2 separate regions of the Homo sapiens genome follow, and region 1 is linked to region 2. The links come from fine-mapping of genetic effects on gene expression. A gene starts in region 2. The other region holds a variant in brackets. All regions are shown on one strand. Distances are from middle to middle. Region 1 has its middle 18 kb from the start of SLC1A5. Region 2 holds the start of FKRP (fukutin related protein).

Region 1 (5,372 bases), 60 kb after region 2:
TGCCACTGCACTCCAGTCTGGGCAACAGAGTAAGACTCCCTCTCAAAAAAAAAAAAAAAAAAAGCCAATTCTGAGAGTATACAATCACACAGCACATTCCTAGTGATTATGTGGGTGTCACCCCTGAGGGCAGTTGGCCTGAAGGACCAGGACATTTTGAGTCTGGGAGGCACTGCTACCAGCTCAGACGCCTGGGCCTAGACATCCCTTGAATAAACTAGCTAATGAAAGGTCCCACCTCCACTTCTCCTTTCTGAGAGAAGTGTGAGGCCTGGGGCCTGGATTTGAGAGGTGTTAGAATTTGCACTTTAGCCCAGAGTGAGGAGCAGTGTAGGTGCTGATTAACAGGAACTGGACAAAGTCCTCCCAGAGCTGAAGAGCCCTGGCATTTTGGGGGTGGGAGGGGCAGGGCAAAGGGGCTCCAGTGAGAAGCACACCTGAGGCTCCAGTGAGGCCCATGAAACCGAGGAGGCTAATCCCATCCTGACACAGACAAGGCAACCATGTCTCAAAGTCCCACAGCCAATGAATGAAACAGCCAGGAGAGAGGCCAGGACCTGGGAACTTTATGCTTCCAACCACCAAAGCCCCGTGGTGGGGGGCCTCATATGGCCTGAGAAAATCAGCAACACACATTCCACACAACTGCTTTCTTCCAAGGGCCAATTTATTATTATTATTATTATTATTATTATTATTATTATTATTATTATTTTGAGATGGAGTCTCACTCTGTCACCCAGGCCGGAGTGCAGTGGCGCAATCTCGGCTCACTGCAACCTTTGCCTCCCAGGTTCAAGCAATTCTTGTGTCTTGGCCTCCCGAGTAACTGGGATTTACAGGCATCCACCAACCATGCCTGGCTAATTTTGTATATATATATTTTAATATGGAACGCTTCACACCTGGGATTACAGGTGTGAGCCACTGCCCCCGGCCCGAATGCCAATTAAAAAACAAAAAACTTTACTATTATTATTTTTATTTAAGGGACAAGGTCTCACTCTGTCACCCAGACTGGAGTGTGGTGGTGAGATCATAGCTCACTGCAGCCTCTAACTCCTGAGCTCAAGTCATCCTCCCATCTCAGCCTCCCGAGTACCTGGGACTACAGGTGTGCACCACCAATACACACATACAGATAGATAGATAGATAGATAGATAGATAGATAGATAGATAGATAGATGATAGATAGATAGATTAGTTTGTTTGTGATGGAGTCTTGCTCTGTTGCCCAGGCTGGAGTGCAGTGGTGCCATCTTGGCTCACTGCAACCTCTACCTCCCAAGTTCAAGCGATTCTCCTGCCTCAGACTCTCGAGTAGCTGGGACTATGGGCACATGCCACCACACCCGGCTAATTTTTGTATCTTTAGTAGAGACAGGGTTTCACCAGAAAAAAAAAAAACTTATTTGCTTTATCTTTTCGCTTTCCCCTGGTCCTGCCAGCCTGATTCCTTTTCCCGAATTAGGACTCCACAACTAATGTTTATCGAACATTTACTATAGCCCAGAGGTACAGCTTCTCAGCAAACCAATGGGTCCTATTAATATCCTCATTTTATAGCTGAGTAAACAGAGGTACAGACAGGTGATGTGACTTGGCCAAGGTCTCACAGCTTAATTGAGAGAGTCACATTTTTTTCTTTCTCTTTTTTATGATTATTTTAAAATTTTTAATTTTTTTTTAGGGACAAGATCTCGTTCTGTCACCCAGGCTGGGATGCAGTGGCATGATCATAGCTCACTGCAACCTTGAACTCCTGGGCTCAAGCAATTCTTCCGCCTCGGCCTCCTGAGTATAGCTGTAATCTCAGCACTTTGGGAGGCTATGCAGGGTGGATTGCTTGAGCCCAGGAGTTTGAGAACAGCCTGGGCAACATGACGAAACCCCATCTCTACAAAAAATATAGTAGCTGTGTACCAGCTACTCGGGAAGCTGAGCCTGGGAAGTCAATGCTGCAGTGAGCTGTGATTGCAACACTATACTTCAGCCTAGGTGTTGGAGTGAGACCCTGTCTCAAAACACACACACACACACACACACACACACACACACACACACACACACACACAGCCTGACAGAGGCATGCACTGTTGAAGGTGATAACGTGGAAGAGGACAAAAGTGACAGGCCAGGTGCTGGGCCTCATGGCAGCGTTCAAACTCCTGGAGCCAGCTATGCCTGAAGCCAGCCCATCGATTCCTGATGTCGCTGAAGAGTTACAATCAGGTTTTCAGCCACTTGAAACAGAAAGAGACCAAACGTACCCAGGGAAGGGACAAGTGGATTCAGCCCACTGATA[C/G]GGCAATGGGAAGTAGGGTTCATGGAAGGGGGAAAGGCGGGACCGTGTAAAAGTGAGTAGGAACACGACCCATTCCAGGGGACAGACAGCAGATCATCGGGGTGGCTGCCATGCAAAATTTATAAGGGGTCATGGTGAGGTCATGGTGCCACCTTTCAGTTGCAAGAGAAAGGGAGAAGCCGTGACTATTGTGAAAGCAAAGTAGAATCTCAGGACCCCGAATTCACTAGGTCAAAGGGAAAATTAAGCTGGGGAACTGAGGCACCAGTACTGTCTTCCTTTTGTTCCCAGATTGCTGTAATTTTCCAACCCCGTATCATAGCTTAATTTACTCTTTTTTTTTTTTTTTTTTCTGAGACAGCGTCTCGCTCTGTTGCCCAGGCTAGAGTGCAGTGGTGAATCTTGGCTCACTACAACCTCCGCCTCCCGGGTTCAAGCAATTCTCCTGCCTCAGCCTCCCGAGTAGCTGGGACTACAGGCACCCGCCACCACGCCTGGCTAATTTTTTGTATTTTTAGTAGAGACGGGGTTTCACTGTGTTAGACAGGATGGTCTCGATCTCCTGACCTGGTGATCCACCCACCTCAGCCTCCCGAAGTGCTGGGATTACAGGTGTGAGCCACCACGCCTGGCCATTTTTTAAATTTCATTTTATTTATTTTTTTTGAGATGGAGTCTCACTCTGTTGCCCAGGCTGGAGTATAGTGGTAAGAGCTCAGCTCACTGCAGTCTCCACCTCCCGGGTTCATGCGATTCTTGAGCTCAGCCTCCTGAGTAGCTGGGATTACAGGTGCCTGCCACCACACCTGGCTAATTTTTATATTTTTAGTAGAGACAGGGTTTCACCATTTTGGCCAGGCTGGTCTTGAACTCCTGACCTCAGGTGATCCACCTGCCTCTGCCTCCCAAAGTGCTGGGATTACAGGTGTGAGCCACCGCACCCGGCCAACACCGGATCGTATCTTGAAGGGAGAAGGGCTTCATGCAGGATCAGTGGGGAACATCAAAGGGTCTAAGCAGCAGAGTGACACAATCAAGTTTGTGTTTAGAAGCTTCTGCACTCTCACACATTTGCTGGTGGGTGTGGAAGTTGGTACGGCCTCCCTGGAAAGCCATTAGGCAAAAGGCCTTAATTTTAGATCCTCCCACACCCTTTGACACAGCAGTTCTTCTCTGAGGGATTTATTCCACGGCTATTGTCTTGCATGCGAAAAATCACCACAGCCCTGCTTGCAGTAGCAAAAGACTAGAAGCAAACTAAGCACATACCAGGAAGGAACCAGCAAAATATGTTGTGGCCATTCATGCTATGGAACACTAGACAGCTGTAGAAAAGAATGAGCCACGTTTACAGGCATTGCACTGGCGTGCTGGTAAATACTTAACCAGGCCGGGCATGGTGTACTTCCAGCATTTTGGGGGGCCTAGGTGGGAGAAGGGCTTGAGCCCAGGAGTTTGAGACCAGCCTGGGCAACATAGCAAGAACCCTGTCTCTACAAAAAAATACAAAAATTTGTCTGGGTGTGGTGGCTTATGCCTGTAATCCCAACACTTTGGGAGGCCAAGGTGGGCAGATCACTTGAGGCCAGGAGTTCAAGACCAGCCTGGCCAATGTGGCAAAACGCTGTCTCTACTAAAAATACAAAACTTAGCCAGGTGTGGTGGTACGTGCCTGTATTCCGAGCTGTTTGGGAGGCTGCAGCATGAAAATCACTTGAACCTAAGAGGTGAAGGTTGCAATGAGCTGAGATCACACCATTGCATCCAACCTGGGCGACAGAGCTGGACTCTGTCTCAAAGAAAATACAAAAATTAGCTGGGTGTGGTGGCACGTGCCTATAGTCCCAGCTACTCAGGAGGCTGAAGAGGGAGGATCGCTTGAGCCCAGGAGGTCGAGGCTGCAGTAAACTCTGATTGCACCACTGCACTCCAGCCTGAGTAACAGAGCAAAATCATCCATATATATATATGTATGTATGTGTGTGTATATATATATACACACACACATATGTGTGTATGTGTATGTATATACACATATGTATATATGTGTGTATATATATATATACACATATGTGTGTGTGTGTATATATATATATACACATATGTGTGTGTGTGTATATATACATAATTTTTTTTTTTTGAGACGGAGTCTCGCTCTGTCGCCCAGGCTGGAGTGCAGTGGCATGATCTCAGCTCACTGCAAGCTCTGCCTCCCAGGTTCACCCCATTCTCCTGCCTCAGCCTCCCGAGTAGCTGGGCCTACAGGTGCCCGCCACCACGCCCAGCTAATTTTTTGTATTTTTAATAGAGATGGGGTTTCACCATGTTAGCCAGGATGGTCTCGATCTCCCGACCTCATGATCTGCCTGCCTCAGCCTCCCAAAGTGCTGGGATTACAGGCGTGAGCCACTGCGCCCAGCCAATATATATATATATATATTTTTTTTTTTTTTAATTTAACCACCAGCTCTCTAGGGAAGAAACAGCCCTAATTTATACCATTTGCCAATTTCTACAGTGTAAATATTCCCACTGTGGTTGATTTCTAGTTACTGATAGGATGTCATTGGATGTGGAATTCAGAAGAGACAAGCAACCACCCACTATCACTCAGGATTTCCACCAGGCAGAGATAAGTAGCCTGGAGAGCATAGATAATAGTAAAAATGTAGCAATTAGGATGCAATGCATTTGAACTATTTATTATATTTGTTTTTAACATAATTTATTTATCTGTAACTTTGTATCATTTAATTGTTAATAATACCTATGTTTAACAACTGGTTTGTGAAATTCCCAAAAGTGTAGCAATCTGCTCTTGAGAACTGGGCACAGCACACATTGAGACACAAATGGATCTTCAAGAAGAGAAAGCAAAAGCCAACTTTTGGAAAATGGCCTGGAAGGTTCTACACTGCTCACTCCCTTAATTTTAATTTTATTTATTTATTTATTTATTTATTTATTTATTTATTTATTTATTTTTTGAGACAGGGTCTCACTCTGTCACCCAGGCTGGAGTGCAGTGGCGCAATCGCAGCTCACTGCAGCCCCCTGGGCTCAAGC
Region 2 (5,372 bases):
ATATGAAAGGAAAACCAAAACAGATTATTATGTCACAAAATGATACATACAGCAGTAGTTCATCTATTACATAAGCACAATAACTCTTCTCTCTCAGGAGAGAAGAGCAGGAAAGGGACGAAGAGAAGGAACTTTCCTTTTTCACTTACATATATATGTGTATACACACACTCACACACACACACACACCCCTCTGAGATGTCTGAATTTTTACTAACTTAACAGAATAAAAGAAAACAAAAGTACAAAGTGACAGTGCTGGTACCATGCCAGACACAAGTTCCTCTCAAACTCCAAGAAGGGTCAGTAAGTGAGGGGATAAACATCTTTTCTCTCATCAGCCTCCAGGATGAGAAGATGGTGTGGTGGGTGCTGTGCGGTGCACTGGTGCAAAGTCCCAGAGGCCAAGATTCAGTCCAAGCTCTGCTATGACTGCTTGGGTGACCCTGGGGAGGCCACTATGCTTGCCTGAACCAATTTTCTCAACTGTACTGGGTAGCAGAGAGGTACAGAACATGGGCTTAAAAGTCTACCGACGGTCGGGCATGGTGGCTTATGCCTGTAATCCCAGCACTTTGGGAGGCCGAGGCAGGTGGATCTCTTGAGGCCAGGAGTTCGAAACCAGCCTGACCAACGTGGCAAAACCCCATCTCTACTAAAAATACAAAAATCAGCCAGGCGTGGTGGTGGTGCACACCTGTAATCCCAGCTACTTGCGAGGCTGAGGCAGGAGAATCGCTTGAACCTGGGAGGCAGTGGTTGCAATGAGCCAAGATCATGCCACTGCACTCCACCCTGGGTGACAGAGTGAGACTCTGTCTCAAAAAAATAAAAATAAAAATAAATAAATAAATAAATAAATAAACAAAAGGTCCACCACAGACCAGCCCTTCTGCTCATCTGCTGGGATCCTAGATAAATCACCCTCTCAAAACCTCCATTTCCTCTCCTGATTTTTTTTAAAGGTAGGGGGAATATCCTTTATCCTCCCAGAATGCTGCAAGAATTAAATGACAGCTCGTATCTACAGTACTTGATACAGCGCCCCAGACATGGTATGTGCTCACTAAATTGCAGCTGGTACCGTTATTGCTGAGTGAGGTAATGACACTGCCTCTGCCTACATCACAGGGCATTGTGAAGATCTGATGAGATGTATGCTGGGAAAGAGCTTCGGAAGTAGAGAGTGGGACAGAAGTGAGAGCAGTTACATAAGGATTCTGCTCCCATCCCAGCCCCAAGCCTCAGCCACCACAAGTGAGGGCAGGGGGAGAGTTACTGGAGGGTCTTTACTCATCCTATGAACAAAATGCTTTTTTTTGAGACAGGATCTCACTCTTTTGCCCAGGCTGGAGTGCAGTGGTGCAATCATGGCTCACCGCAGCCTCAACCTCCGGGGTTTAAGCAATCCTCCCACCTCAGCCTCCTGAGTAGCTGGGACTACAGGCGCATGTCACCACACCCGGCTAATTTTTGTACTTTTTTGTAGAGATGAGGTCTTGCTATGTTGGCCAGGCTGGCCTCGAACTCCTGGGCTCAAGGGATTCTCCCACCTCAACCTCCCCAAGTGTTGGGATTACAGGCGTGAGCCACCGCACCCCATCCCTACCGACACAATTCTCATCAGCTATTTATTTGGGTACCAGCTTCCTACTAGATAGCAAACGGCAAATCGGAAGGGGAAAGGTGGGCTGCTACAAGCAGGTAATGACAATTTCTGCTAATAATAACCCAGTCCAAGAATCTTCAGACTTCCAGCGGGCCATTCCTGATCCCTTCAAATCCGGACATCTCCATGGTCCTCCAGTCACTGCCAATGGACCTGACGCTCCACGAGGTCACAAACCCTAGCCCAACTCCTCAGACTCTTCCATTCAACATCCCTGTCCCAAGCTACCCCAAAAACCACGGGGTCTTTTCCCAAGACTTCCACAAACATATCCCCTTCCCCCCAACCCCAGTCTACCCCCGTTCCGAGATGCCTCCTCATGTTGCCTTCGGGCTCTACAAAATTCTCCCCCCTAAAGCATCACCCCAGGGTAACCCCTAACTCGTCCTCATTGGCACCATCCCAGGACCCTCACCTCCATACTGGACATGCCCAACACCCCACACTCCAGTTCAGGGCTCTCTACCTACATCCTACAACACACGTGCCATCTCAGTGCCATCGCGCCCACTCCTGCACACCCCCAAAGTGGAACTTCCACTCTTAAGCTCTCCCATCCAGGCTCCTAGGGTACATTCCCTGCTCTGTCCACACTTCCACTCCAAAGAACCCTTCCCTGCACTGTGCAGCCACACATGCCCGGGATCCCCAAAGTTTCTCCTCAGAGGGGAAGGCACACACCTTCATCCTGGACCCCTTGAAACCCTCCTCCCACCCCTCGGGTCCTTACACAGCCCTCCTTCCGTGCCCACCGTCCAGTCGCCCCGAAACACACCGATCCCAGGTTCCCGACTTCCTCTCCCTAAATCCTCCCGGTTCCCCATCTGGACCCGCTCTTTCCCAGCGGGTCCCAAGTTCCCCCCTTGGACGCTCCCACCTCCAACCTGCACCTGGCTAGGGCCATGGTCGGGGTCGGGGTCGGGAGTCCCTCGGCGCCCGGCAAGCTTCTGCTTACTCCCACAGGAGACCACTCAGGTCTCCCAGACCCCTCCAGCTCCTCTCCACACCCTTTCCCGAGTTCTCTTAGCCTCCCCTCCAGGGCTCGAGTCGCCTCTCTCAGGAGCCCCGCGGCCAGCGTGCTCAGTCCCAGTCCCAGTCCCACTCCCAGCTGGTTGTGGTCCCTCCGCCCCTTTCTCTCGGCCGGTCCCGGTGATCCCTCCCACCCCCGGTCCCTCCACTCCCACCTCGGGCCGTCCCGGTCCCGTCCCACCCCGGAGTGCCCTCAGGACACCCCTCGGACGGCCCCTCACTCGCCCTCCGGGACCGTCGCGGTCCCCTCCCGCCCCCCCGCCGGCCGTCCCGGCGGCCATTGCTCCAAGATGGCGGCGGCGGCGGCAGCGGGTGAGGCCGGGCCGGGCCGGGCCGGGTTGGGGGTCGGGGGTCCCGGGACAGCGCTCACCTGTAACTCGGCGCGCTCGGCCTCCCAGCGGGCTTTCTCGGCTTCGAAGCGCGCCCACTCGTGCTGGATAAAGTGCAGGATCCCCGGCAGGCTCAGGGGCTCCGGGCCCGCCGTGGGCCCGGGGCTGCCTCCGCCGCCGCCTCCCTTACCTGCCGGGCCCGGCCCGGGGGCAGGGGCGGAGACCGGGGCCGCCCCAGTGGGGCCAGGGCCCGCGCCTGAGCCGAGCGGACGGCAGGAGGAGGCGGCGGCGGCGACCGCGGCGGCCGCTCGCTCCTCCATCATGGAGGCCCCGGGGCCGGCCTGCGCGCCCGCTGTGCCTCGCGCGCCTGCGCGGCCGCGCCAACACCCCCCCCCCTCCCCCGCCGCAACCACCGCGCGCGCGCCCGGCGGGGGACAGTAGGAAGGGGGGCCGGCGGCGAGCGCGAGCCTCGCCCACCCGGGTCTACACCGAAGGGTAGCGTGCCCGCGCGGGGGCCGGCGGGTGGGAGATCGCGCCCCGAGGAGGGCGAGGGAGACCCAGGCCCCGCGCGACGGTCCCCCTCGCTGGAGTGAGACTGAGGAAGGGGCCGCTTTCTGCCCCCCTCCTCCCACTTCGCCCCAGAGAAAGAGCCTTACCCCTTCCACACCCAAACACCACTCTCCTGGACAATTACTTTTACTCTGAGAGAAAGGGCGACCAGCAGTGGCCCCATCCTCTCTGATTGCCGGCCAGGTTGGTTGTCATGGTAACCCTTCCCCAGCGGTGGGGGCGAGGTGGTGGGGAGCAGCCTTCCCCTCGCTTCCACCTTTGTGGTTATGGAGCCCCAAACCTCTTAGGACTCTGCACCAGGAGAAGGTTGCTAAGGTAACCTAAGTGTCCGTGGTGGTCCTTCTGCTCCTATCCTCATTGATTACTATGGCAACCTCCCCCCCACCTAGCATTCAGGTAGAAAGGACCCCAGCCCCAAGGACACTGATCTCTAAGAGAAGCACCTCTTCCCCAGCCCCTCCCCCATAGCCACCTAGTTGGCATTACCATGGTAACCGTCTTCCCCTTCCCATCGTGGGAGGCCCATGCACCAAACTAACCAGGTGTTTTTATTTAGAGGAGATGCTCTGCTGAGGGGCAGTTGCTATGGTTACAGGGCCTGGACCTTCCTCCGGAAGGTGAGAAACAGGCAAGTTCAAGGCCTGGTTACTATGATAATAGAGCAGCCCCCTTCGAGTGACCCTAGGAACCAAGCCCAACAAAGGAGGGGATTTTTTTTTTTTTTTTTTTTTTTGAGACAGAGTGTAACTCTTGTTGCCCAGGCTGGGATGCAATGGCCCAATCTCGGCTCACCACAACCTCCGCCTCCCCGGTTCAAGCCGTTCTCCTGCCTCACCCTCCCAAGTAGCTGGGATTACAGGCATGCGCCACCACGCCCGGCTAATTTTTTTTTTATTTTTAGTAAAGACGGGGTTTCTCCATGTTGGTCACGCTGGTCTTGAACTCCCGACCTCAGGTGATCTGCCTCAGGCCCGCCTCGGCCTCCCAAAGTGCTGGGATTACAGGTGTGAGCCATCACGCCCGGCCAGGGGATGTTTTAAGAATGTCTCTCAGAGGTAGAGTGTGTCTATGGAAGGGGTTGTCATGGTAACAGCTTCTGTTGGCTTCTAGCCCTACCTTTTCTGGACACATTCATGCTAGAGGGATGGTTATAGGTTGCTATAATAACTGACATCCCTCCCATTCACCCCACCCCACTCCTGAGACACCCCAGGTGGTGCCCGAGATTATAGGACTTCAAGAGAAAGGATTCCCTGACCTTTCTCTTGCCACTTTTGTGGATAAGATGAAATTGTGCTCTATTGTACGGAAATGGCTGATTTGGGATTTTCTGGTTCTCCTCCTCTCAGGAGCGCAGCTCAGCTGGGCTGGAACTGCCCTCCTGGAACTCCCCCAGCCTACAACCTAGGAGGTAAGAAGTCCCTCAGTGTCACCTACACTCTCATGGAAACTGCCCTTCCTCATTCCTTAAGGCTTTCCCATGTCTCTCATTTTTTTCTTTTTCTTTCTTTCTTTTTTGAGACGGAGTGTCGCTCTGTTGCCCGGGCTGAAATGCAGTGGCGCGGTCATGGCTCACTGCAACCTCCACCTCCCTGGTTCAAGCGATTCTCCTGCCTCAGCCTCCCGAGTAGCTGGGATTACAGGCACCTGCCACCACGCCCGGCTAATTTTTTGTATTTTTAATAGAGATGGGGTTTCACCTTGTTGGCAGGCTGGTCTCGAACTTCTGACCTCGTGATCCGCCCGCCTCGGCCTCCCAGAATGCTAGAATTACA

Evidence for each region.
Region 1: its variant is fine-mapped to the expression of FKRP in hippocampus (GTEx, PIP 0.95).

What each region holds. Positions count from the first base shown.
Region 1 is chr19:46,803,432-46,808,803 of GRCh38, forward strand. No RefSeq gene overlaps it. Among named protein-coding and RNA genes, the nearest start is that of SLC1A5, 18 kb to the left of the region's middle. The variant C/G (reference allele first, on the strand shown) is at 2,307.
Region 2 is chr19:46,743,081-46,748,452 of GRCh38, forward strand. It overlaps FKRP (fukutin related protein), which reads left to right and starts at 2,977. Exons shown (of 4, transcript NM_024301.5): 1 at 2,977-3,010; 2 at 4,947-5,008. STRN4 (striatin 4) reads right to left here and starts at 3,370. Exons shown (of 18, transcript NM_013403.3): 1 at 3,069-3,370. The coding sequence starts at 3,350. RefSeq lists silencers at 2,916-3,145, 3,356-3,405, 3,416-3,565, 3,606-3,705, 3,746-3,795.